3 separate regions of the Homo sapiens genome follow, and regions 1 and 3 are each linked to region 2. The links come from fine-mapping of genetic effects on gene expression. A gene starts in region 2. Each other region holds a variant in brackets. All regions are shown on one strand. Distances are between the middles of the regions.

The links.
Region 1: its variant is fine-mapped to the expression of GP6 in lymphoblastoid cells (TwinsUK, PIP 0.95).
Region 3: its variant is fine-mapped to the expression of GP6 in prefrontal cortex (GTEx, PIP 0.95).

What each region holds. Positions count from the first base shown.
Region 1 is chr19:54,979,076-54,988,397 of GRCh38, forward strand. NLRP2 (NLR family pyrin domain containing 2) reads left to right here. Exons shown (of 13, transcript NM_017852.5): 5 at 2,542-2,607; 6 at 3,087-4,653; 7 at 5,972-6,142; 8 at 7,076-7,240. Among named protein-coding and RNA genes, the nearest start is that of NLRP2, 17 kb to the left of the region's middle. The variant C/G (reference allele first, on the strand shown) is at 4,438.
Region 2 is chr19:55,033,609-55,042,468 of GRCh38, forward strand. GP6 (glycoprotein VI platelet) reads right to left here and starts at 4,656. Exons shown (of 8, transcript NM_016363.5): 1 at 4,595-4,656. The coding sequence starts at 4,628. All of the region lies in intron 2 of GP6-AS1 (GP6 antisense RNA 1), which reads left to right. It also overlaps a transcript of RDH13 not described here.
Region 3 is chr19:54,678,025-54,689,071 of GRCh38, forward strand. No RefSeq gene overlaps it. Among named protein-coding and RNA genes, the nearest start is that of LILRB4, 21 kb to the left of the region's middle. RefSeq lists a silencer at 6,518-6,718. The variant T/C (reference allele first, on the strand shown) is at 5,447.

The sequences.
Region 1 (9,322 bases), 54 kb before region 2:
CTGGGTTCAAGGGGTCTTCCTGCCACAGCCTCCCCAGGTGCTGGGACTATAGGTGCCCACCACTATGCCTGGCTAACTTTTGTGTTTTTAGTACAGATGGGGTTTCAACAGGGTAGCCAGGTTGGTCTAGAACTCCTGACCTCAAGTGATCCACCTACCTCGGTCTCCTAAAGTGCTGGGATTACAGCTGTGAACCACCGCACCTAGCCTGTGATCAGTTTCAGATCAGCCTTGCTTACTCCACATTCCCTCTTATCTTCCTGGTAGCATTTTTGTTTTTTCTTGAGAAAGAGTTTTGCCCTTGTCGCCCAGGCTAGAGTGCAATGGTGTGATCTCGGCTCGCCACAACCTCCACCTCCCAGGTTCAAGTGATTCTGCCTCAGCCTCCCGAGTAGCTGGGATCATAGGCGCCCACCACCACATCTGGCTAATTTTTGCATTTGTTAGTTTTATTTTTAGTAGACAGGGTTTCACCATGTTGGGCAGGCTGGTCTTGAACTCCTGACCTCAGGTGATCCACCCACTTCGGCCTCCCAAAGTGCTGGGATTACAGGCATGAGCCACCGTACCTAGCCCACATTGACTTTTGATACAGCAAGTATTTCTTGCTATGGCTCTGTATAATAGAGGTGAGTAACTTGGTTGAAGGAATTGTTTGCCCTGTTCATCTCTCTAGACACGGCCAATGTCATTCCTGGCACACAATCTTTTTTTTTCTTGAGATGGAGTCTCACTCTGTTGCCCAGACTGGAGTGCAGTGGTGCAATCTTGGCCCACTGCAACCTCTGCTACCCAGGTTCAAGCGATTCTCCTGCCTCAGCCTCCCAAATAGCTGGGAGTACAGGTGTGTGCCACCACGCCCAGCTAATTTTTTGTATTTTAGTAGAGACAGGGTTTCACCGTGTTAGTCAGGATGGTCTGGATCTCCTAACCTCGTGATCCGTCCGCCTCAGCCTCCCAAAGTGCTGGGATGACAGGCGTGAGCCACTGTGCCCAGCCTAGCACACAATCTTGACAAAGAATTTCGGTGCGACTTGGGGTACTGTGGTGCCTGCTCTATCATCATGCTTCAGCAGGAAATGTGGGTGAATAGTGCCTGGTGGCATGGCAGGTAAAGAAATGTTTTGTTTTGTTTTTTTTTTTGAGACAGTCTTGCTCTGTCACCCAAGCTGGAGTGCAGTGGCGCAATCTCGGCTCACTGCAAGCTCCATCTCCCGGGTTCACGCCATTCTGCCTCAGCCTCCCCAGTAGCTGGGACTACAGGCGCCCGCCACACGCCCGGCTAATTTTTTGTATTTGTAGTAGAGACAGGGTTTCACCGTGTTAGCCAGGATGGTCTCGATCTCCTGACCTTATGATCCACCCGCCTTGGCCTCCCAAAGTGCTGGGATTACAGGCGTGAGCCACCGCGCCCAGCCGCGGGTAAAGAAATTTATGAAGACAATCGTAGGTAAAGGAAGGCAGATTTATTGGAGAAAGTAGGAAAAGACATTGGCAGAGAGACCCCAGCGGGCAGGTTGTCATGAGTAGCTCACTGCCAGGAGACCAAAGCTTCCTGCAGATTTTATAGAATAGGGCTTGGGCTGATTGATAATGTCAACAGGGGGTTTAACTTGCGGTCTTCTTTCAGCAGAAGTGTTTGATAAACTGAGGCGTTTCATGGCAAACAGGGAGTTTGTGAGCTCTGTGTGTGATCTGGCCAGGAAGGCCAAACATCTTGGGCCGTATCTCCTGGACCATAAAAGCAGACCTGGCCCAGTGCAGTGGTTCATGCCTGCAATCCCAGCACTTTGGGAGGCTGAGGTGGGTGGATCATCTGAGGTCAGCAGTTTTAGACTGGCCTGGCCAACATGGCGAAACCCCATCTCTACTAAAAATACAAAAATTAGCCTAGACGCAGTGGCACATGCCTGTAATTCCAGTTACTTGGGAAGCTGAGGCAGGAGAATCGCTTGAACCCGGGAGGCGGAGGTTGCAGTGAGCTGAGATTGCGCCACTGCACTCCAGCCTGGGCAACAGAGTGAGACTGTCTCAAACAGACCTATAGCTGACCTGTTTCCTCTTGTTTGTATGCCCTGAACCATGGAGGAAAGCTTATTTATTTATTTTATTGAGATGGAGTCTTGCTCTGTTGCCCAGGGTGGAGTGCAGTAGTGCGATCTCTTACTACAACCTCCATCTCCCAGGTTCAAGCAATTCTCGAGCCTCTTGGCCTCCCAAGTAGCTGAGATTACAGGCATGCGCCACCACGCCTGGCTAATTTTTGCATTTTTAGTAGAGATGGGGTTTCTGTGTTGGCCAGGCTGGTCTCGAACTCCTGAGCTCAAGTGATCCACCCCACCTCAGCCTCCCAAAGTTCTGGGATTATAGGCATGAGCCACCACACCTGGCCGGAAAACACATTTGTAGCTTATTTGCTTTATCTGATCCCGTGCCCCCCCTCCCCCCCGCCCCATCAGCCTGCCTCCTTTTCTCTAATTGGGACTCCACAGGAAATACACCTGATTTTGTGTCAATCTCACATGAGTTTGTATTTTGTAGCGTTTACAGAAACGAAAGGAAATGTCATCTGCCTGGGTAAAGAAGTCTTTAAAGGAAAAAAGCCAGGTCTGTACCATATCTTCCTGCAGGGAGCTTGGGATCAGATTTCTCTTTATAAACTTGAAGTCCTCTTAACTTTCCTATGTAACACAAAGCATTTATTTATGTATGTATGTATCGAGACGGAGTTTTGCTCTTGTTGCCCAGGCTGGAGTGCCGTGGCGTGATCTCGACTCACTGCAACCTCCGCCTCCCAGGTTCAAGCAATTCTCCTGCCTCAGCCTCCCGAGTAGCTGGGATTACAGGCATGCGCCACCATGACTGGCTAATTTTTTATTTTTAGTAGAGACAAGGTTTCTTCATGTTGGTCAGGCTGGTGTTGAACTCCCAATGTCAGGTGATCTGCCTGCCTCGACCTCCCAAAGGGCTGGGATTACAGGCATGAGCCACTGTGCCCGGCCAACACAAGGCATTTTGTTATTTTGGTTTTCCCTATGGGTAACTGATTGCATCCTCTCTCCCTTCCCTCCTCACCAATGATAAAGACAAAGACAATAGGTGCAGGTATATATTGAAGACGAAGTTCCGGGAGATGTGGAAGAGCTGGCCTGGAGATAGCAAAGAGGTCCAGGTTATGGCTGAGAGATACAAGATGCTGATCCCATTCAGCAACCCCAGGGTGCTTCCCGGGCCCTTCTCATACACGGTGGTGCTGTATGGTCCTGCAGGCCTTGGGAAAACCACGCTGGCCCAGAAACTAATGCTAGACTGGGCAGAGGACAACCTCATCCACAAATTCAAATATGCGTTCTACCTCAGCTGCAGGGAGCTCAGCCGCCTGGGCCCGTGCAGTTTTGCAGAGCTGGTCTTCAGGGACTGGCCTGAATTGCAGGATGACATTCCACACATCCTAGCCCAAGCACGGAAAATCTTGTTCGTGATTGACGGCTTTGATGAGCTGGGAGCCGCACCTGGGGCGCTGATCGAGGACATCTGCGGGGACTGGGAGAAGAAGAAGCCGGTGCCCGTCCTCCTGGGGAGTTTGCTGAACAGGGTGATGTTACCCAAGGCCGCCCTGCTGGTCACCACGCGGCCCAGGGCCCTGAGGGACCTCCGGATCCTGGCGGAGGAGCCGATCTACATAAGGGTGGAGGGCTTCCTGGAGGAGGACAGGAGGGCCTATTTCCTGAGACACTTTGGAGACGAGGACCAAGCCATGCGTGCCTTTGAGCTAATGAGGAGCAACGCGGCCCTGTTCCAGCTGGGCTCGGCCCCCGCGGTGTGCTGGATCGTGTGCACGACTCTGAAGCTGCAGATGGAGAAGGGGGAGGACCCGGTCCCCACCTGCCTCACCCGCACGGGGCTGTTCCTGCGTTTCCTCTGCAGCCGGTTCCCGCAGGGCGCACAGCTGCGGGGCGCGCTGCGGACGCTGAGCCTCCTGGCCGCGCAGGGCCTGTGGGCGCAGACGTCCGTGCTTCACCGAGAGGATCTGGAAAGGCTCGGGGTGCAGGAGTCCGACCTCCGTCTGTTCCTGGACGGAGACATCCTCCGCCAGGACAGAGTCTCCAAAGGCTGCTACTCCTTCATCCACCTCAGCTTCCAGCAGTTTCTCACTGCCCTGTTCTACACCCTGGAGAAGGAGGAGGAAGAGGATAGGGACGGCCACACCTGGGACATTGGGGACGTACAGAAGCTGCTTTCCGGAGTAGAAAGACTCAGGAACCCCGACCTGATCCAAGCAGGCTACTACTCCTTTGGCCTCGCTAACGAGAAGAGAGCCAAGGAGTTGGAGGCCACTTTTGGCTGCCGGATGTCACCGGACATCAAACAGGAATTGCTGCGATGCGACATAAGTTGTAAGGGTGGACATTCAACGGTGACAGACCTGCAGGAGCT[C/G]CTCGGCTGTCTGTACGAGTCTCAGGAGGAGGAGCTGGTGAAGGAGGTGATGGCTCAGTTCAAAGAAATATCCCTGCACTTAAATGCAGTAGACGTTGTGCCATCTTCATTCTGCGTCAAGCACTGTCGAAACCTGCAGAAAATGTCACTGCAGGTAATAAAGGAGAATCTCCCGGAGAATGTCACTGCGTCTGAATCAGACGCCGAGGTTGAGAGGTGAGAACCGTTTCACTCTACCAGTCGTTCCATCTTTAGCCTCATCCCATGCCCCCTTAGGAAGAGGCCAGAGCCTCCTATGCACTGTGGCTTAGGGTCAGGAATTCCCTCTTGTTGGACTCTTTGTTTGTTTTTGTTTTGAGATGGAGTCTTGCTCTGTCGCTCAGGCTGGAGCGCAGTGGCGCGATCTTGGCTCCCTGCAACCTCCGCCTCCCGGGTTCAAGTGATTCTTCTGCCTCAGCCTCCTGAGTAGCTGGGACTACAGGCGCCTGCCACCTTGCCCGGCTAATTTTTATATTTTCATTAGAGACGGGATCTCAGCATGTTGGCCAGTCTGGTCTTGAACTCCGCCTGACCTCAGGTGATCCACCTGCCTCAGCCTCCAAAGTGGGATTACAGGCATGATTCACCATGCCCGGCCCAAATATATTTTTTTAAGACAGGGTCTTGCTGTGTTGCTCAGGCTGGAGTACAGTGGTGAAATCAGCTCACTGCATCCTCAAACTTCTGGGTTCAAGTGATGTTCCTGAGTACCTGGGATGACAGGTATTAAGTGTGCACCATCATGTCCAGCTAACTTAAGTGGGGGTTTTTTTTTGTGTTTTTTTTTTTTTTTTTTTTTTTGGAAAGACAAAATCTCACTATGTTGTCCAGGCTGGTCTTGAACTCCCAAAGCACTGAGATTACAGGCATGAGTTACCACACGCCCTGCCTGAATATTTCTTATTGATATGTATAGATATGTATATTCCCAATCTTTTTTTTTTTTTTTGAGACGGAGTTTCACTCTTTTTCCCAGGTCGGAGTGAAGTGGCTCGATCTCGGCTCACTGCAACCTCCGCCCCACCAGGTTCAATGATTCTCCTGCCTCAGCCTCATGAGTAGCTGGGATTACAGCCACCCACGACCATGCCCAGCTAATTTTTGTACTTTTAGTAGAGACGGGGTTTCACCATGTTGGCCAGGCAGGTCTCGAACTCCCGACCTCAGGTGATCCACCCGCCTCAGCCTCACAAAGTGCTAGGATTATAGGCGTGAGTCACCGTGCCCGGTCTATATTCTCTATCTTTTATCAATGATGTGCTTAGCATTTTAACTTATTTTTACCCTCTATTGGATTTTTGTCTAAGAAGAATAGGTTCTTTCTCCTGTGATGCTTCTTGGGTGTTGAGTTGTCTGATGGTGGTGCTAATAAGTGATTACATGGTCCAGCTTTCAATTGTACTCATTTGTCAGGGGTATATGCCCAGAGAAACCCTAAATACTTCAGCCGTGATGGACACACATTTGGTGTAACCCTTTCTTCTCTTCCCTATAGATCCCAGGATGATCAGCACATGCTTCCTTTCTGGACGGACCTTTGTTCCATATTTGGATCAAATAAGGATCTGATGGGTCTAGCAATCAATGATAGCTTTCTCAGTGCCTCCCTAGTAAGGATCCTGTGTGAACAAATAGCCTCTGACACCTGTCATCTCCAGAGAGTGGTGTAAGTAGAAACTAATTCATGAACTCAAATCCTTAGGGTATGAAAATGGTACAATGTTAACATCGGAGCAATATTCAGATTCCTGTACTAGACTCTTAAGTGCTCGAGACACAGGGAATTGAGAGAGTCCTGTCCTTAAATTTATTTTGTGGGATAATCGTATAAAGTAATTTCTAGGGGCTGGGCATGGTGGTTCACACTTGTAATTCCAACACTTCGGGAGGCCGAGGCAGACAGATCACTTGAGGTCAGGAGTTCGAGACCAGCCTGGCCAACGTGACAAAACCCTGCCTCTACTAAAAATACAAAAATTATCCAGGCGTGGTGGCAGGCACCTGTAATATCAGCTACTTGGGAGGCTGAGGCAGGAGAATTACTTGAACCCAGGAGGCGGAGGTTGCAGTGAACCAAGATCCTGCCACTGGACTCCAGTCTGAGTGACAGAGCGAGACTGCGTCTCAAAAAAAAAAAAAAAAAAAAAGAAAAAGAAAAAAAGGGCCGGGCACAATGGCTCACGCCTGTAGTCCCAGCACTTTGGGGGCCCAAGGTGGGGGGATCACTTGAGGTCAGGAGTTCAAGACCAGCCTGGCCAAGATGGTGCAAGACCCTGTCTCTACGAAAAATACAAAAATTTGCCAGGTGTCGTGGCAGGTGCCTATAATCCCAGCTACTCCGGATGCTGAGGGTAGGAGTCGCTTGAATCCGGGAGGCAGAGTTTGCTTTGCAGTGAGCCGAGATCGCGCCACTGCACTCCAGCCTGGGCAACAGAGTGAGACTCCATCTCAAAGAAAAAAAAAATCTGTAAAGATGGACAAAAATTTAAACATGGAAAAAATAGTTCCTAAAGTTTAAATATATCGAGCCCCTGGTTTCCATTTAAGTACGATACAGGTGTACACACTAAAGATTTCACTTTCGTTCTCTTTTCCCTAGGTTCAAAAACATTTCCCCAGCTGATGCTCATCGGAACCTCTGCCTAGCTCTTCGAGGTCACAAGACTGTAACGTATCTGACCCTTCAAGGCAATGACCAGGATGATATGTTTCCCGCATTGTGTGAGGTCTTGAGACATCCAGAATGTAACCTGCGATATCTCGGGTATATCTCTTAATCATTAAAATCCTTCATCATACAAACATAAGCTACCACAAGCTTATGTGGCAATTTTGTGTAAATAAGAAAAAGTTCGTTATTCTGACTAGAAACAGTACTAAGGGCAGATGACCCAGGATGCAGCATGGGCTGAACTTGAGTTTCTACTTGCCTTGAACAGTAAACACCCTGGACAACCATACGTGAGGACCCTGAATCCAAAGAAACTCCCAGAATCTTTATCATCTTTTTTTTTTTTTTTATGAAGTCTTGCTCTGTTGCCCAGGCCAAAGTGCAATGGCACGATCTTGGCTCACTGCAACCTCTGTCTCCTGGGTTCAAGTAATTCTGCTGCCTCAGCCTCCCAAGTTGCTGGGATTACAGGCACCCGCCACCACGCCCGGCTAATTTTTGTGCATTTAGTGGAGCTGGTTTCGCCACATTGCCAGGCTGGTCTCGAACTCATGACCTCAGGTGACCTGCCCTCCTCAGGCTCCCAAAGTGCTGGGATTATAGGCATGAGCCACCATGCCCAGCCAGAGTCCTTATGTTTTGGTTTTGGTTTTGGTTTTTTCTTTTTCTTTTTTCTTTTTGAGATGGAGTCTCGCTCTGTCACCCAGGCTGGAGTGCGTTGGTATGATCTCAGGTCACTGCAGCCTCCACCTCCCAGGTTCAAGTGATTCTCCTGCCTCAGCCTCCTGAGTAGCTGGGATTACAGGTGCACACCACCACACCTGGTTAATTTTTGTATTATTAGTAGAGATGGAGTTTTACCACATTGGCCAGGCTGGTCTCGAACTCATGACCTCAGGTGATCTACCCCCCCACCCCCACCCCACCCCGCCGTCGGCCTCCCAAAGTGAGGCATGAGCCACCGTGCCCAGCCCAGAATCTTTATCTTCTATCAGAGATCATTCACTCATGGTTCATGCTTCTCCTGTATGATGATTCAGAATACCAGCTATTGACATTTTTCAAGCAAGAACCCTTCAGGAACATCAAGTTGCCCCTTTTCTGTTAGTCCTCTGGTTTGAGAGCTCTCCCCTTGGGAAGCTGTCCAGTGGCTGCCCAGGCGATGAGAACCTACATGCATCATGGGGTTCCATGAAGCCTCACTTGGCCACACTGGTGTAGTAGGTGGTCATTGGCCTCAAATTATTGCCCTGGGCCAGGCGCAGTGGCTCACGCCTGGGAGGCCGAGGTGGGTGGATCACTTGAGGTCAGGAGTTCAAGACCGGCCTGGTCAACATGGTGAAACTCTGTCTCTACTAATAATACAAAAATTAGCTGGGCATGTTGGCGCACGCCTGTAGTCCCAGCTACTCAGGAGGCTGAGGCAGGAGCATCATTTGAACCTGAGAGGCGGAGGTTGCAGTGAGCTGAGATCACACCACCGCACTCCAGTCTGGGCAACAGTGTGAGACTGTCTCAAAAAAAAAAAAAAAAATCTTGGCTGGGTGCGGTAGCTCATGCCTGTAATCCCAGCACTTTGGGAGGCCAAGGCAGGTGGATCACAAGGTCAGGAGTTCAAGACCAGCCTGGCCAACATGGTGAAACCCCACGTCTACTAAAAATACAAAAACATTAGCTGGGCATGGTGGCGCGTGCCTGTAATCCCAGCTACTCATGGAGGCTGATGCAAGAGAATTGCTTGAACCTAGGAGGCAGAGGTAGCAGTGAGCCAAGATCACGCCATTGCACTCCAGCCTGGGCAACAGAGCAAAACTCCATCTCGAGGACAGAAAAAAAATTGATTGCTCTGGCTCTACTGATACAATCTTAGGCTGCTTAATGGGATCTTAGTTGAATAGGATGCTGTACATCTTACAGGTATTGGAAGGTTGAATGAAACCAAGCCCATGCATTCAATAGTGGCTGCTATCATTACTAACCGTTGCAATTACCCTCTTTTCTTTTTGCCTGAGAATAATGGGATGCAGGGTGAGGGGGAATATTGGGTGAATTAAAGATTTGGGTCACTAATTTCTTTCTTTTTTTCTCAAGATATAGTCTTGCTCTGTCTCCTAGGCTGGAGTGCAGTGCCACAATCTTGGTTCACTGCAACCTCTGCCTCCCGGGTTCAAGTGA
Region 2 (8,860 bases):
CATTGCTGTCCCTTCGTTTCCTCCCTTCAGTCTCCCAATATTAAATAATATCCAAGTACATTACAATAGTATGCAATTGTATAGACAAGTATTGTAAATACTATTGCATATTGTATATTATTGTATTTTATTGTCTATGTAATATATGCGATAAAACCCCACACTAATGGGATGCATTGGGCTCCAAGGATGGAGCAGGATGGAGCCTCAGCGTGTAAGTCAGGACGTCTCAGCATGTGCTGGCCATGGGTTTCCCGGTATTTACAACATTTGCTTGAATCAGTATTCCATGATTACATGATAGGATATAATATATATAATAATCGTTTCAAATAGCCTGAAGGAGGATGGGGAAAGTTCCCAACACAGAAAGGATGCATGTTTGAGAAGATGGGTGTGCTACTTACCCTGATCTGATTACTATATGTATATACACATATAGTGCATATATGTAAACCTACATCTATACATACATGTGTATGTACATATACACGTGTGTACATACACACGTGTATATGTATGTATATGTATATATGTATGCATGTGTGTGTGTGTGTGTGTGTGTGTGTATACATATGTATACAAATACATGTACATAAGCGATCCCCTCCTGGAATTGCTTGAGCCCAGGAGGTCAAGTCTGCTGTGAGGTAAGATTGCACCACTGGCCGGGCACGGTGGCTCATGCCTATAATCCCAGCACTTTGGGAGGCCAGGGTGGGCGGATCACAAGGTCAGGAGTTCAAGACCAGCCTGGTCAACATGGTGAAACACCATCTCTACTAAAAATACCAGAAATTAGCTGGGCATGGTGGCACGTGCCTGTAATCCTAGCTACTGGGGAGGCTGAGTCAGGAGAATCACTTGAACCCGGGAGGCGGAGGTTGCAGTGAGCCAAGATCACGCCACTACACTCCAGCCTGGGCAACAGAGCAAGACTCCATCTCGAGGAAAAAAAAAAATGATATTGCCCCATTGCACTCCAGACTGACAACAGAGCAAGACCCTGTCTCAGAAAACGAAGAGGAGGAGGAAAAAAAAAGTACTAATTATCTGAAATTCCAATTTAACCAGGCATCCAGTGTTTTATCTGGTAACCCTCATTCTTACACACACACACACACACACACACACACAAAGGCGGGATAGTTGTCATTCCCACTGTAAACATAAGGAAACTGGGCAGAGGCCAAGCAACCTTGTGTAGCTCACATAGCAAGAAGTGGGTGAACCCAGCTCATGTCTTGACTCTGAGCTCAGAGAGTGACAACTTGTCACCAGCGCCCCCATAGCCACCACCCTTTGTCCACCCCAGGCTCCCTCTGCACCCCAACGCAAGCTCCGGCCGCTTCTCTGTCCCCCTCCTCCTGCCGCATCACAGCCCACCTCAGCCTCTTTGTAGGTTTCCATGCGACGCTGTACCATGGCTGGGAGTCTTCCAGGCGCCGTGCTGAGCGCCTTCTGTGCATGGACTCCAAGTCGCCATAATCGTACGGGTTACCCACCATTATCAGTCCCCTCTTATACATCAGGCTAGTGAGACAGTATCTTATCCACAGTCCTACAGCTGGCAGGAGTAGATTCAAACCCTAGCAGCACCAATTAGTGGTAAAGAGTGTGGACTTGGGAACTTACAGGAGTAGAGAGCACAGTGGTGGTTACCGGGGCGGTGGGGTAAGGTTTGGGGAGATGTTGGTCAGAGGAGGACAGTTTCAGTTGGACAAGAGGAGTATGTCTTGGAGATCTACTGCACATCATGGTGACTGTAGTTAATAACAACATATTGTACACTTGCATATCACCGATAGTAGATTTTAAATGTTCTCACCGGCCGGGCGCGCTGGCTCACACCTGTAATCCCATTTTGGGAGGCCAAGGTGGGCGGATCACCTGAAGTCAGGAGTTCGAGAGCAGCCTGACCAACATGGTGAAACCCTGTCTCTACTAAAAATACAAAAATTAGCGGGGCGTAGTGGCAGGAGCCTGTAATCCCAGCTACTTGGGAGGCTGAGGCAGGAGAATCGCTTGAACCTGGGAGGTGGAGGTTGCAGTGAGCCAACGTCATGCCACTGCGCTCCAGTCTGGGCAACAGAGTGAGACTCCATGTCAAAAAATAAAAATAAATAAAAATAAATGAGCGTGGAATACTACTCAGCCATTAAAAGGAGTGAAATAATGTCTTTTGGCCAGGCACAGTGGCTCACATCTGTAATGCCAGCACTCTGGGAGGCCGAGGTGGGTGGATCACGAGGTCAAGAGATCAAGACCATCCTGCCCAACATGGTGAAACCCCATCTCTACTAAAAATACAAAAATTAGCCGGGCATGGTGGCGGGTGCCTGTAGTCCCAGCTACTCGGGAGGCTGAGGCAGGAGAATCACTTAAACCCGGGAGGTGGAGTTTGCAGTAAGCCGAGATCACACCACTGCACTCCAGCCTTGGTGAGAGAGCGAGATTCCGTCTTTAAAAAAAAAAAAAAAAAGTCTTTTGCAGCAACTTGGATGGAGCTGGAAGGCATTATTCTAAGTAAAGTAATACAGGAGTGGAAAACAAAAATCTGTATATTCTCACTTATAAGTGAGAGCTAAGCTGTGGGTATGCAAAGGCATGCAGAGTGATGTAATGGACTTCAGAGACTCAGAAGGGAAGGGCAGAAGTGGGGCAGGGATGAAAAACTACACATTAGGTACAAGGTACACTAGTCAGGTGACAGGTGCACTAAAATCTCAGAATTCACCAGAATATAATTCATCCATGTAACCAAGAACCACTTGTATCCCAAAAGCTACTGAAGCAACAAGCCAGATGCAGTAACCTGTACAGGCCACACCTGTAACCCCAACACTTTGGGAGGCCGAGGTGGGTGGATCGCTTGAGCCCAGGAGTTCAAGACCAGCCTGGGCAACATAGCGGACCCCCGTAACTAAAAAAATTACAAAAACAAGCCAGGCATGATGGTGTACAACTGTAGTTCCAGATACTCAGGAGGCTGATGGGGAGGCACTGGTTGAGCCTGGGAGGTTGAGGCTGCAGTGAGCCATGATCATGCCACTGCCCTCCTGCCTGGGTGACAGAAGTGAGGCCCTATCTCAAATAAAATTAAATAAATAAAAGTTAAAACAGGCTGGGTGCGGTGGCTCACGCCTGTAATCCCAGCACTTTGGGAGGCCGAGGCGGGTGGAACCTGAAGTAAGGAGCTTGAGACCAGCCTGGCCAACATGGTGAAACCCCGCCCCTACTAAAAATACAATAATTAGCCAGACCTGGTGGCAGATGCCTGTAATCCCAACTATTCGGGAGGCTGAGGCAGGAGAATCACTTGGACCCGGGAGGCAGAGTTTGCAGTGAGCTGAGATCATGCCATTGCATTCCAGCCTGAGCGACCGACTGAGCGAGACTCCATCTCAAAAAACAAACAAAAAGAAAAAAAGAATACATCCATGGATGGATAATGAATGAGAGGTTGTTTATATTCACAGTTAACCCTCTCATCTCCAGTAATGCAACCATCTTCTTCCTGCTTAGCCTTTTGGAGATGCTGTCCCTTTAGTGGTCAAATTCTGAAGAAATCAGGAAATAATGCATTCGACATGCCCAGCACAAGTGAAGATCAGGCAGCAGAAATGCATTCGACCTGCCACCCATCCATCAGGAGACTATTTACTCCACTACTGTAGGGGATACTGACAAATTAAATCCATACCTAGTCCAGATATCAATTCCACAATTTTTTTTTTTTTTTTTTTGAGACGGAGTTTCGCTCTTGTTGCCCAGGCCAGAGTGCAATGGTGTGATCTTGGCTCACCGCAACCTCCACCTCCCAGGTTCAAGCGATTCTCCTGCCTTAGCCTCCAGAGTAGCTGGGATTACAGGCATGTGCCACCACACCCGGCTAATTTTGTATTTTTAGTAGAGATGGGGTTTCTCCATGTTGGTCAGGCTGGTCTCAAACTCCCGACCTCAGATGGCCCACCCGCCTCGGCCTCCCAAAGTGTGTAAGCCATGGCACTCAGCCTTTTTTTTTTTTTTTTTTTTTTTTTTTGAGATGGAGGCTCTCTCTGTTGCCCAGGCTGGAGTGCAATGCCTGACCTCAGCTCACTGCAACTTCTGCCTCCCAGTTTCAAGCAATTCTCCCACCTCAGCCTCCCACGTAGCTGGGATTACAAGCACCCGCCATCACGCCCGGCTAATTTTTGTAGAGATGGGGTTTCACCATGTTGACCAGGCTGGTCTTGAACTCCTGACCTCAGGTGATCCACCCACCTCGGCCTCCCAAGGTTGAGATTACAGGCGTGAGCCACTGTGCCTGGCCCACATTTTTTAAAAAAGGGGCAACTGCAGTGTAGTAGAACAAAGTTGTGACCAATGCTAGGATACTCTGTTCATTTCCTGACCCAGCCATGAATACACTGGAATAACTCATGCAAAATGCCAGCTCGCTGGCCCCCCGTTTCCCCACCCAACAAATGAAGGGGCTCTTACAGGTTCCTTTTTGTCCTGAAATTCATCACCAATGCAAATTTCTTAAAAATCCTTTGTCTGGCAGTCCATGCCTGTCCTTCAGCATTTCCCAGATCTGACCCTCAGGACTCACCAAGACAGAAGAGGGCGGTCGGGGATGGAGACATGGTTCCTCAGCCCTGTCCTGAGCTCTGTGGCCAGGGAGGGAAGTGGTGGGAGCCTGGGGCACAGGCTCAGGATGTGATGAGGATGAAGAATGCTCTCCTCCCTTCCTCCACCAGCCCCGGCCTTTCCTAATTGAGACTCATCGAGCCGTAGCCGGCTCCTCAGTACAGTGACTTGCACACAAGCTCCAAGGAGCCGCGCTTATCTCCTCTGGCCAGCCTGGCGTTGCACCGTTTGTCCGCCTGCTGGGGCCTGGTCTGTGTTCCCGTGCTCCCATAAACTCCCTGATGTCACTAGGAAAATACGCATCAAAACCACAGTGAGATATGACTTCACACCTTCTGGAATGGCTGTATTTTTTTTTTTTCTTTTGAGACAAAGTCTCGTTCTTTTTGCCCAGGTTGGAGTGCAGTGGCGCCATCTCGGCCCACTACAACCTCCACCTCCCAGGTTCAAGCGATTCTCCTGCCTCAGCCTCCCAAGTGGCTGGGATTATAGGTATGTACCACACCAGGCTAATTTTTGTATTTTTAGTAGAGATGGGGTTTCACTGTGTTGGCCAGGCTGGTCTTGAACTCCTGACCTCAGTTGATCCACCTGCCTCGGTCTCCCAAAGTGCTGGGATTACAGGCATGAGCCACTGCACCCGACCGGCTATAATTTTTTTTAATGGAAAACAGCAGATATTGGTGAGTATGCAGAGAAATTGAACTGCGCGTGCATTGCTGGCAGGGACGTAACATGGCGCCCCTGCTGTGGAAAACAGTTCCAGCAGCTCCTCCAGAAGTTAAACGTGGGATTGCCATAAAATCCAGCAATTCCACTTCGGGGTACACACCTAAAAGAACTGAAAACAGGGTCTCTAACATATTTGTACACAGTGTTCATAGCAGCTTTATTCACAATAGCCAAAAGGTGAAACCACCCACATGTCCATCAACAACAATGGATAAACAACATGTGGTATATACACACAAGGTAATATCAACCAGCCTTAACTAAAAGAATAAAAATCAGCCAGGCACAGTGGCTCACGCCTGTAATCCCAGCACTTTGGGAGGCCGAGGCGGGCGGATCACCTGAGGTCAGGAGTCCGAGACCAGCCTGGTTAACATGGTGAAACCCCATCTCTACTAAAAATACAAAAATTAGCTGGGCGTTAAATTAGCCGGGCATGGTGGCAGGTGCCTGTAATCCCAGCTACTTGGGAGACGGAGGCATGAGAATCGCTTGAACCTGGGAGGCAGAGATTGCGGTAAGCCGAGATCGCACCACTGCACTCCAGCCTGGGCGGCAGAGTGAGACTGTCTCAAAAATAAAAATAAGGCCGGGCGTGGTGGCCCATGCCTGTAATCCTAGTACTTTAGGAGGCTGAGGCAGGCAGATTGCCTGAGCTCAGCAGTTCAAGACCAGCCTGGGCAACACAGTAAAACCCCCAAAAAATACAAAAAAAAAATAGCCGGGCATGGCGGCAGGCACCTGTAGTCCCAGCTACTCCGGAGGCTGAGACAGGAGAATGGCTTGAACCCGGGACGCGGAAGTTGCGGTGAGCCGAGATCGCGCCATTGCACTCCAGCCTGGGTGACAGAGCGAGATTCTGTCTCCAAAAAATAAAAAATATTATAAAAGAATAAATTCAGATACATGCTACAACGTGATGGACCTTGAAGACATTATGCTAAAGGAAATATTCCGGACTTGACAGATAAATACTGCATTGTGCCGCTTATCTGAGGTATCGAGAGGAGTCAAATTCATAGAGACAGGGATTAGAATGGTGGTTGCCAAGGCCTGGGAAAAGTGGGGAGTTACTATTTAATAGGGAGCGCTTAGGTTGAAGATGATGACAAAGTCTGGGGGATCCATAGTGGTGATGGTTACACAACACTGTAAATGTATTTATATTTAATGCCATTGACTGTTTTTTGTTTTTTGGTTTTTTGAGACGGAGTCTCACTCTGTCGCCGAGGCTGGAGTGCAGTGGCGCGATCTTGGCTCACCGCAACCTCCGCCTCCCAGGTTCAAGCGATTCTCCTGCCTCAGCCTCCTGAGTAGCTGGGACTACAGGTGCGTGCCACCATGCCTAGTTGATTTTTTGTATTTTTAGTAGAGACGGGGTTTCACCGTGTTAGCCAGGATGGTCTCGATCTCCTGACCTTGTGATTTGGCCTCCCAAAGTGCTGGGAATACAGGCATGAGCCACCGCGCCCGGCCAGTGCCGTTGACTTGTATGTGCACTTACAGGTGGTTAAAATGAGAACTATCAGGGTGTTGATATCTAAAAACCTCCCTGCCATCATCTTCCCTACATCTCTCATTCAGTGACCATGGTTGAATGCCTGCCACCTTTCAAATATTATGTCAGGCACTCAGTATTGGCAGTTTTATCCATTATAAATGCTTTAAGCTGCATAGAATTTTAAACGTGTTAATAAAAGTAGTTATAAATCTTTAATACATAAGCTGGCTTTAAAATTATTGGTAAAATAAGATTAGAAATGTCTTAAGAATTGTTGGCGTTTTTGTTTGCACTTATTGAACGAGTGGTTTCATGCTTATCCCTGCAGAATACTATGAGATTTGTCATAAGGGTTATAAAACTATAAACCCGGCTGGGCGTGGTGGCTCACGCCTGTAATCCCAACACTCTGGGAGGCCGAGGCAGGCAGATCACCTGAGGTCGGGAGTTTGAGACCAGCCTGACCAACATGGAGAAACGCCATCTCTACTAAAAATACAAAATTAGCTGGGTGTGGTGGCGCATGCCTGTAATCCCAGATACTCAGGAGGCTGAGGCAGGAGAATCGCTTGAACCCGGGAGGCAGAAGTTGCAGTGAGCCGAGATTGCGCCACTGCACTCCAGCCTGGGCAACAAGAGTGAAACTCCATCTAAAATAAATAAAAATAAAACATTTGTTTTTTGTAGAGTTGGGGTTTCACTATGTTGCCCAGGCTGGTCTTGAACTCCTCCTGGGCTCAAGCAATCCACCGACCTCAGCCTCCCAAAGTGCTGGGATTACAAGTGTGAGCCACTGTGCCTGGCCCTATTGGGTCCTTTTAAAAGATACATAAAAAATCAAATGCAACAGTGAAGTCAATCACCCGATGGCAGAAATTGGGGTGCTCCTGGCATGTGGTCGGTCGAAGCCAAGGACACTGCTCAGCATTCTGCAGTGCACAGGACGGCCCCGCCCAGGCGGAGAATGATCCGGTGACACATATAGGTGGGAAGGATGCACGAATGATGGCGTTTAGGAAGAATATTATCACTTCTTTCCCGTAAGAGCAACTTAGAGCAAGAAAATGGTATTATTCTTAGGGCCTTCTCTCTTATGGAGGCTCCAAGCCAGGGTTGCCATGGCAGAAGATGCTGGGCTTGCTTTTTCCTTGAGAGAACTGTACTCAAGATGATGTAACTGTCACCCCGGGTGCCACTTGGGTGCTTTGGAGAAGCGCTCAGACGCGACACGCCGTGACGACTCCGCGGCAGGCAGCCGGACCTGTCCTCTGGCGTGCGGTTCACGGGCTGTGTTTATCCCCCTGGTTCCTTCACAGCCACCTTGGGAAATACGTTGCCTCTGAATCACGCCAGGCAGGCTCTCACTGTGTGTGCTGCGGGGCTGGAAATCAGGGTGACACTCCGCTACCGAACAGCCTGACTAGGAAGCCAGAAAGACGCTGCCGGCTTTAGTTTGTCCTTTGACTTTCCTTGATATGAATGAAGATAGAGCACTTCCACACTGCACAACAGGAAAAGCCCAGAACGCTTCCTGGAGATAGCGAGGGGGTGATGCAGCGGACAGCTATGGCTGATGACCCCCTCACCTCTGACTCCCCCTCCCTCCCTGCTTTCTGAACGCACATCCATCACCAACCATAGGTTCCTGTTTGGGGTTTGCTGGCTGGAAAAAAAAAAAAAAAAAAAAGGAAAGCTGGCTTTCTAGTAAAAACCACTTCCTTTGCTCATTTATCAAACTCAAACGCTAGGAGGGCCACCTAACATCCTCCGTCCCACGCAATGGGGTGTTTCTGGAGCACTCCGGTTTATCAGGGACCCTGTCAGTTGCCATCGCACATGTATATGGGGCCAGCCCCTGTGCCACCGAAGAGGGGGGATATTGAAAACATGTTACAGCCAGGAGCGGTGCCCCCTTGGTTCAAGCAGTTCTTCTGCCTCAGCCTCCCTAATAGCTGGGATTACAGGCGTGCACCATCACGCCTGGCCACTGTTATG
Region 3 (11,047 bases), 350 kb before region 2:
TACTGTTTGTGGTGAGAACTCTTAAATCTACTCTCACAGTGATTTTCAAGAATAGAATATATCGTTATTAACTATAGTCACCATGTTGTAGCATAGATCTGGAAGTTATTCTGTCAAACTGGAATTTTGGACCCCTCTATCAACATCCTCCCAAGATATAGGAATAAATGTGAGCACATCAAAAGACACCCAAACCATTACTTATTATAAAAATTCATAGGAATCCACAGTGAGACACTACTTCAAACACTGGATTGGCCATATTCTGAAAAATAACAAATGTCAGGAAGGGTGTGCGGAAAGAGAACCTTCACGCACTGCTGGCATGATTGTGAAATTTTTCGGTGACTGTGAAAAGTGGTTTGGAGGCCGGGCGTGGTGGTTCACGTTTGTAATCCCAGCACTTTGGGAGGCCGAGGCAGGAGGATCACCTCAGGTCAGGAGTTTGAGACCGGCCTGGCCAAAATGGCAAAACCCCTTCTCTACTGAAAGTGCAAAAATTATCTGGGCACGGTGCAGGTGCCTGTAATCCCAGCTACTCAGGAGGCTGAGGCAGAATAGCTTGAACCCAGGAGCAGAGGTTGCAGTGAGCCGAGATCGTGCCGCTGCACTCCAGCCTGGGTGACAGAGCCAGACTCCATCAAAAAGAAAGAAAGAAAGAGAGAGAGAGAGAGAGAGAGAGAGGGAGGGAGGGAGGGAGGGACGGAGGGGGAGAGAGAGAGAGGAAAGAAAAGAAAGAAAGAAAGAAAAAGAGAGAAAGAAGAAAAAGAAAAAAGCGGTTTGACAGTTCCTTAAAAGATGAACCTAGGAAGGCTTATATGCTGTTGGTGGTAAATTAGCTCAACTTCTATGGAAAACAGCATAGAGGTTTCTCAAAGAACTAAATACAGAACTGCCGTTTGACCCAGCAATCCCACTACTGTAAAAGAAATAATTATATTAAAAAAGACACACGCACTCGTATGTTCACCGTGGTGCTATTCACAATAGCAAAGTCATGGAACCATCCTAGATGTCCATCCATCGTGGCATGGATAAAGTAAAAGTGGTAAATATATAGCCCAGAATACAGCATAGCCATAAAAAATAGTGAAATCATGTCCTTTGCAGGAACATGGATGGAGCTGGAGGCCATGATCCTACGTGAACTAACTCAGAATCAGAATACCAAACACTGCATGATCTCACTTACAAGTGGGAGCTACACAATAGGCACTCATGGACATAAAGATGGAGATAAACACAGGGAAACCCAAAAGGGGGGAAGGGTGGGAGGAGGGCAAGAGGTTAAAAAAATATATTAGGGCTGGGTGCGGTGGCTCACGCCTGTAATCCCAGCACTTTGGGAGGCAGAGATGGGGGGGATCACCTGAGGTCAGGAGTTCGAGACCTGCCTGGTCAATGTGCAGAAACCCCATCTCTACTAAAAATACAAAATTAGCTGGGCATGGTGGTGCATGCCTGTAATTCCAGCTACTCGGGAGGCTGAGGCAGGAGAATTGCTTAAACCTGGAAGGTGGAGGTTGCGGTGAGCCGAGATCGCACCACTGCACTCCAGCCTGAGCAACAAGAGTGAAACTCCATCTCAAAAAAAAAAAAATCTATCTATCTATTTATATATATATATACACACACACACATACATACACCAAACAAGCACATGTACCTTTTGAATATAAAATAAAATAAAATAATAATATAAAATAAAATAAAAAATAAACCTAGAATTACTCTATGATCTAGAAATTTCACTTCTAGGTATGTGACTAAAGGTTTAGGTTATACAAGACGAATGAAGTTTGCAATGTACCCTACAACATTTTGTCTTTAGTTAACAATACTGCATCATGAAGTTAAAAATTGGTAGGAGAATTAACTCTTCCTACCACAATAAAAAAAAAGACTGATAGTAGATATTGTGAAAGGAAATTAAATTTTGGGACCCCACACTCATTTAGCTAAGGGGGAAAGTCAAGCTGGGGACTGGGTCACACAAACCTGCCTCTCCATTTTGGTTCGTGAATAAGATGGCTACAAGGTGAAAAGCTACATGCCTCCCCCACGTTTTGCCCACAAGAAGATTCCTAGTGAGCTGTTAAAATTTCACCATGGCAATGTAAATTGATAGCTTATCTTTCCAATGTATATTGATAGCTTATCTTTCCAGTGTATACTGATAGCTTATCTTTCCAGTGTATATTGATATCTTATCTTTCCAGTGTATGATAGCTTATCTTTCCAATGTATACTGATAGCTTATCTTTCCAGTGTATACTGATAGCTTATCTTTCCAGTGCATACTGATAGCTTATCTTTCCAGTGTATACTGATAGCTTATCTTTCCAGTGTATGTTGATAGCTTATCTTTCCAGTGTATATTGATAGCTTATCTTTCCAGTGTATATTGATAGCTTATCTTTCCAGTGTATATTGATAGCTTATCTTTTCCAATGTATATTGATAGCTTATCTTTCCAGTGTATATTGATAGCTTATCTTTCCAGTGTATACTGATAGCTTATCTTTCCAGTGCATACTGATAGCTTATCTTTCCAGTGTATACTGATAGCTTATCTTTCCAGTGTATGTTGATAGCTTATCTTTCCAGTGTATATTGATAGCTTATCTTTCCAGTGTATATTGATAGCTTATCTTTCCAGTGTATATTGATAGCTTATCTTTCCAATGTATATTGATAGCTTATCTTTCCAGTGTATATTGATAGCTTATCTTTCCAGTGTATATTGATAGCTTATCTTTCCAATGCATATTGATAGCTTATCTTTCCAGTGTATATTGATAGCTTATCTTTCCAGTGTATATTGATAACTTATCTTTCCAGGTACAGTCTCCCCAGCCCATCAGACACAAATGCATATCTGATCATTCCCCCACCCAATTTTGTCTATGTTTATCTTATGTAAAATGCAGATTCACTGCATATTTTCCTCTGCCCCATTTGTTTTTGTCGTCTGATGTAAAAAGTGCAGATTCACTGAACCAGACAAAGGCATGAATGACTATTTTTAAAAAAAATACAGATTCACTGAGCTAGACAAAGGCATGCGTAACTATTTTTCCTTACCCTCCTCTTACATGAAAATTGTGTGCTTCTCAATATCCCGCCCTTTACCCTTTAAATTTGGATCCCTCAAAATCATCTTCAGAGAAAGGCATAGATCTGTCTCCCAGGCACATCTTTAACTTTGGCAAATAAATCTCCTGAAATGATAAGAGACTTATCTCATTGGACAATATCCAAACACTTGTGCCCAAGTGTTTATAGAAGCATTATTCACAATAAAAAGATAAAAGTATCACAAATGTCCACCAACCAACGTGTTGCATCCATATGTTAGAAATTTACTCATCCATAAAAATGAAGTACTGATGCATGCTGCAATTTGGAGATTCAAAATATGAAGCTAAGTGAAAGAAGCCAGATCCAAAGGTCACATACTATATGATTACATTTATATAAAATGTCCAGCAGCTGGAAATCCACAGAGACAGAAAGCAGATTGATGGTTGCCTGGGGCTGAGCAGGGGTAGGGAGAGGAGAGGGACTGCTCCGTGGAACGGGGTTCCTTTTGGGGTGATGAAAATCTTTGGGAACTAGAGGTGGCAGTTGCTGCAATGAAAATCTACTAAATGCCACAGAGTTGTATATATATATATATGTATTTTTTTTTTGAGACGGAGTTTCACTTTTATTGCCCAGGCTGGAGTGCAGTGGTGTATTCTCGCGTCTCTGCAACTTCCGCCTCTCAGTTTCAAGCGATTTTCCTGCCTCAGCCCCCCAAGTAGCTGGGATTGCAGGTGGCCACCACAACACCTGTCTAATTTTTCTGTATTTTTAGTAGAGACGGAGTTTCACCATGTTGGCCAGGCTGGTCTTGAACTCCTGACCTCAGGTGATCCACCCGCCTCGGCCCCCCAAAGTGCTGGGATTATAGGCGTGAGCCACTGCGCCCGGCCTAGAGTTGTATACTTTTAAAGGGTCAATTTTACATTATCTGTATTTTACTTCAGTGAATGGAAATTTAAGAAAAAAGAGCATGGTTCTATGCAGATTTCTTTTATCTTAAAAAGTTGCAACATGACCCAGTGTTTTTTTTTTTTAATGTGAGGTAGGATTCCTAATAAGTGAGAGACGTCCTAAGTCCCACAGTGTTCAGACATGAAGCTGATCTTTTCACCTTACATCTTAAATTCTAATGTGGCTGAGTACAGAATTCGGGATGAGCTCCAGGATTCCTGCAGTCTGTAACTTTTTCTGACACTTTACCATTCCACCCGTGATGACGGATTGTTCCTGACTTACCTTTGGAACATAAAGGCTCTTACACCACGTGTCTGGATCTGGTAAAAGAGATTACACGAGATTGAGAGCCTTACATGTCTCAGGCAATACTCATCCTCAAACCAACCCTGAGATATGGGTCATTATCTTCTTCTATAAGGAGGAAAATGGGAAAGAGGTGTTACATGATCAAGGTCAACCATCAGTAAATTCCACCCTCATGTCTTACATTAACACCTGTTCATTTCCTCCAGGGATCACTCTTGCCCAAAGCATGGAGACAGAATCCATGGTATCAGCTGAGGGCTGTGAGCAGGGAAGAAAAGAGGTAGTAAGGAAGGAGAAATGACTCAGATGTTTTGACAGAGAGTGACCCTGTTTGCCCCAAGAACACTTGCGGGTTACAGTCCTAATCTTACCCCCAAAGTGTTCCCAGACCAAACTGAGGGTGGGGCTGCTATTTCTCATGGCCCAATAATGAGATGCGGATGAACTGGGGAGGGAGAGAGTTTTTATTTCTGTTACCGGTTACAGGGAGAAGGCCTGGAAAACATTGCCAGACCAACTCAAAATTACAAAGTTTCCCAGAGCTTATATACCTTCTAAGCTATTTATTAAAAAATGCAGCTATTTTCTAAGCTATCTTCTAAGCTAAGCTAAGAAGATAGCTAAGCTTCTTCTAAGCTAAGCTAAGAAGATAGCTAAGCTTCTTCTAAACTATCTAAGCTAGATAAGCTTCCAAACTATCTTCTAATAAGTTTAGAAGATTCTAAGCCATTAAGCTACCTAAGCTATAGTCTTCTAAGCTATCTTCTAATCTAAGCTTAGAAGCTTAGCTATCTAAACTAAGCTAAGATATTCTAAGCTTCTAATATCCATCTTTCACATCACCCATTTCCTGCATGGGATATGGCACGCCAGAGACCCAGGGGATGTTTTCTGCATGAATCTAGTAATAAACAAATACCTGCATCCCTCAGGGCTGATAAAGAGTCTATAAACCTCAGATGGAGAGTCTAGAATGTTAGAACATAAACCAGGGAATGTGTCAGATGCCTAAGAACCTTCACAGCAATTCTAGCAATTCTTCATAAAAGCAGCTGTCATTTACTGAGCATAGTTCATCAGGTTATCTCTAGGCATA[T/C]AATGAAAATAATAATCATAGTAAAAAATAGCCCACATTATTGAATGACTGCTAAGAACATGGTAGAATTTCACTTTGTACATCACATGTATTAACTATGTAGTTCCCCACCAAAACCATGTAAGGTAGATACTAGCACTATACTAAGTTTATATATGACACAATAGCAATGTGGGTAACTTTCCCTAACTCACGAAGTTAAAAGGGGCAGAGCTGTGATCAAATCTCAGGCTTCCTGGCTCCAGAGTCTTCCCTGTTAGTTCAACTGATTGCTTCCTATGAGAGGTAGAATATAATAATCTCTGATTGTCAACCCACCAAATATCCTTACAAAGAAGACATTTTTATTATTGCAATTTTATAGAAAAGCAAAGTGAGCCTCAGAGAGGCAAAGTGACTTTCCCAAGGAGACAGAGATAGCAAGAGGCAGATGTAGGTTTTGAAAGTACTGTGATGTAACTCCAAGCCTGTTGCTTTTTTTTTTTTTTTTGAGACCGAGTCTTACTCTGTTGCCCAGGCTGGAGTGCAGTCACGTGATCTCAGCTCTCTGCAAGCTCTGCTTCCTGGGTTCATACCATTCTCCTGCCTCAGCCTCCCAAGTAGCTGGGACTACAGGCACCCGCCACCACGACTGGCTAATTTTCTTTTTTTTTTTTTTTTTGTATTTTTGGTGGAGACAGGGTTTCACTATATTAGCCAGGATGGTCTCCATCTCCTGACCTCATGATCATCCCTCCTCAGCCTCCCAAAGTGCTGGGATTACAGGCGTCAGCCACTGTGTCTGGCCCCAAGCCTGTTGCTTTTTAGTCAATACCCTATAAACTGGTTTCCTGAACATGGTCTGGAAAGAGATGACCTGAGGTGGATGAGGAAGAGCCAACTCTAAATGCCACCCTGGGCCGTGCTAGTGGTTGTCCTGCTGGGTGAGCGGCTAACATCATAAGCTTCTGAATTCCATTCCTATTCAGAATCCATGGAGTGGATGTGTCTTTTTCCAATTTATTCTGATGCATTCGCTAAATATTTATTAGACACCTTCAGGGAATCTCTATTTAGGAGTCTCTAAGAGGGGGCCCAGCTCATACAAATGTATCAACTAACACACCAGAAAACAGTGGAAGCCTTGTTGCTTCCTGGACTCTGACCATGGTGCTGAAACTAGAGTTCATGGCAACATCCCAGTCAGTGCTGTGGACAGCGACCACAGGAGCCACTCTCCTGGGGCTGGGGCCTGATAGAGGAAATAGGAATGGTGTCTAGATACAGGGCCAGGTCTGTTGGAGACCTTGAATAGGAGCCAAAATTGAACAGGATGTGGGGAAGCTCAAGAGGTTGATGACGTCTAGCTGGACCATGGAATGTTGCTATCTAAATAGGCAATTATTTTTGTACTCTACACCAGGGTAGGCAGACAGGAAGCCAAGAGGGAAGCATCCTGGAACTTCCTTCGTCATACAGAATACTGAGTTTCCTTGGCTGCTCATGAGTGTATATTATGAGTGCAATAAAGTTTGAGTGCGATTATCCCTTAGACTAAAATCTGTTTTTGCAAGAGTTTTCTTCAGAGAAATGGAACCAATCAGATGTTTATTTATGTATATACCTATCCTCTGTCTATCTAGCTATCTGTTTATTTCTCTAGGAATGTGCATTATGAATACAATATGGCCCCTCTTACTGTGGGCCAACGTTTGTTCCATGTTTTAGCCAATGAACCAGACAAACTGTTAGAGCCATGTCTAGCTCACTGAGATGCAACATTAAATGCAGGATCTCTCCTTAGTAGGTCCATATCAATAACATTGGCCTGGCTCAACTTTATCTTCCTTTCACCATTATCCAACACCCTTAATGTCCATTCGCACACATGTTCCCTAGATTTCTAGGTGTATAAATCAGAAGAACTTAGTAGTCACTTTGGAGTGTAGCACATTTCCCCATGGATCACACATTGAACCTATGGCTTAGAAGCAAAGATGGGTAGTGGGGGCGGATCCTGAGGAAAATTAGCACTGTCTTGCATGGCAACTGCCTCCGCGGAGGCCACTATTGTTTCCTCAGACAGTGCAGGGTTAATCTCCTCAGATGCACGGGGAGAGAATGCTTCCATTGTCAAAGAGCATGATTAAGGAACTCACTGTCCTTACCTTCATCAGTGTCTTTCACACATCCCTATTCCAAATGTCAAGATTCCACACCTTCCGAATCAATACCCTTAAAGTAGACACCCTTTGAGGCTGGGAATTCCATTTGTATTGTAATTTAGCCACTTGAAGGGTGAGTTTCTGGGTTTGCTTTTTCTTTTTCTTTTTTTTTTTTTTTGAGACAGAGTCTTGCCCTTGTCCCCCAGGCTGGAATGCAATGGCACGATCTCGACTCACTGCAACCTCCACCTCCTGAGTTCAAGCAATTCTCCTGCCTCAGCCTCTTGAGTAGCTGGGATTACAGGCACCAGCCACCACACCTGGCTAATTTTTGTATTTCTAGTAGAGACGGGATTTCGCCAAGTTGGCCAGACTGGTCACGAACTCCTGACCTCACATGATCTGCCCACCTCGGCCTCCCGAAGTGCTAGGATTACAGGCGTGAGCCACCGCACCTGGCCCCAGGTTTGACTTTTCAAAGGCCTCAGCCCTGTGGCTACAAATGATGAGTATCTTTTAGGGCAGATATAGAAGTCTTAGCTCATTTATGTTTGCACTTGAACTGAAAATTCAAATCTTTGAATTCATCCTCTTCTTTCCCCAACTTTGTCCAGTGACAACCCAGCCAATCTCATTATGCTCATTAGTTTTCAAAAACATTCAAAAGTATTATGTACATGATCACTCAGATTCTTTTTTTTTTTTTTGAGACGGAGTCTTGCTCTGTCGCCCAGGCTGGAGTGCAGTGGCATGGTCTCCGCTCACTGCAAGCTCCGCCTCCCAGGTTCATGCCATTCTCCTGCCTCAGCCTCCCAAGTAGCTGGGACTACAGGCGCCCACCACCACACCTGGCTAATTTTTTAGTATTTTTTTTTTTTTTAGGAAAGATGGGGTTTCACCGTGCTAGCTAGGATGGTCTCGATCTCCTGACCTCGTGATCCACCCGCCTCGGCGTCCCAAAGTGCTGGGATTACAGGGGTGAGCCACCGCACCCGGCCCACTCAGATTCTTATAAATGTTTGTTAGGCGTTTCCAATGATGACATTTGGTGTATCCCTATGGCCACATCATGTTATGCACTATCAACACTACTGGAAATGGAGTCATTAGTGTTTTTAAATCTAATCAAATTAGAAAGCCGATTTCAGAAACTTTGGATCCAATTCAGAAAACTCATCCTTAAAAATTCTGTTCCTTTGGAATCATCCCTGGAACCAAAATGATTTTTTTTTCAAGGGTTCTCCAGAGAAATTGAACCAGCAGAATGTTTATTTATGTGTCTATCTGTGTATCTATGTATCTATCTATGTATCTATCCATGTATCTATGTATCTATCTATTTATCTATCTATCTATTTATTTGTTTATCTATTCATTTACCTAGGAATTGGCTCATGTGATTGTAGGAGCTTGGTGAGTCCAAAATCTGCAGGACAGTAGAGTATCCTGGAGACTCAGGAAAGAGTTGTAGCAAACTAAAAAATCCAAAGACAATCTGCTGGAAGAATTTCTTCTTGCTCAGGGGAGCTCTCTGCTATTACTTTATTGTTATTTTGCTCACAAGACATGTATCATCCTATAACATATTGGATTTTCTATTAATTTTTGTTGTTGTCTAATATCCATCTTTCTCAACTATAATATTGATTCAATACAGACACTTTTTTAGAAGTCTTTCTGTCTTTTTTCTGATACATCTTATACACCAAGAATCACGTTTGACCCATTAGATACTTAATGTGTGCCCATGAAAACAGTGAATAAAAGTGTCTCCACTTCTTCCAAGTTTATTTTTAACACTGGAGCAAATGATTTCTACTTGATTCTCTCTTTTTTTCTCCCTTCCAGGCTGCCTTTAGTGCAAAGTCCTCAGAATGGAAAAATATTCTTGGGGGAGGCAAAACCTTAAGGTTGGCAAGAAACAAACCCCAGCCTTATCCTTACTTTCCTTCTCTCAGTTAGATCTCAATGTCCTTGGCTGCAATGCCGTCTCTACCTAGTCTACTTCAAGCTTCCCAGATATGATTTCCTCTCTAAGTTTCTCTGTCTCTTCCTGTCTCTGTCTCTCTATTGTTCTGTTTCTTTCCATCTCTCTCTTTCTTGCTCCAACTTTCTCAGTCGACTAAAACTAATAGCTACGAATAGCTTTCAGTAATTTGAACATTTCACGGATGTTTTTCTAGATCAACTGAAATCCCTATGCAAACACTGTCACTGTACTTGCAGATGAAATGATAATCACTTCCCGGCAAGAAAAGGATCTCATGGTAGTCTTAAGCCTTTATCTCAGGGTTAAGATGCCCCCTTTTGTGGAGGTGCTTAGACTGTGACTATGGCAGTTGCTTTCCCAGCAAGAAACTGCATTTGGTAAGTGGACCTTCTTTCAGTTAGAGAGCCATATTCTTAGAGATGTAGAATATTTGTTGCAACATATATGTGTGTGTGTATATATATATATATATATATATATATATATATATATATATGGTGTAAACATCCCGGTCTATTTCCCCTAAGGTCAAAACTGAACATGGAAAAGAAACATGGGGCAGGGGTATTTTCTGAGAGTTCCTGAGACACAGAACCACCCCAGCCTTCCCACTCAGGGCTGCCTGGCATCTCCTGTTTACCTTCTCTGTCATAGCCCCATCTGAAAGACTCTGTCTGAATAAATATACCAAACCTCATAGTCTTAGCTCTCCTCTTTGTACGAGGGGTAAGAGTGTGTTCAGGTCTTGGCTCCTGTTCACACACCTGTTGTCTAATGGCAACTGGTACTTAGGACATTTGAAATATCTCTGGTGGCTGCATGCTGCACTTTGGTTGGCAATGGCTGTACGTCTCTGAAAACCTTCTGTGATGATTGCAAAACGGTACACTTTCATCTCCTTTCTTATGGGTTCCGGGGAGCCGAATGCACTTGATTTCACCAGTAATATATGTCTATAGACAATTTCTCAGATCGGCGTGAAGAAGGTAAATTATATCTTTCATTTAGAAAAATATAAATCTCACTTTTACAAAACGTGACTAAGAATTGTCAAGGCTTAGAGAGCAGGAATAATCAGGGACTATATGGGTGTTCATGTCTAATAAATGCAACTCTGATCCTTAACCGTATTTAAAAGCGCTTTCAGAGTTCCGAAACCTTTTCATCTGCTCCAGATTCACTGGGTTCTGAAGCCAAAGCTTTCTGAAACTGTTCCTCCTCTCAGCCCCTAAGTGGTGAACGCTTGGTCTGTTCTGACAGCTGAGATCCTAGCCACGGGAGCGTGAGGTGAGGAATTTCCTGTCACCATCCCAGAAAGTAAAATATAGCCTCATTATTTCCTAATTGTGTTTCCATAAGAAAAACAAAGAATTCGATAAAAGAAACAAAGACCAGTATTTACTTTTTCATAAATGATTGTAGTTACTGAAGGACATATGGGGCCCGTAATCACAACGGGTCTAGGAC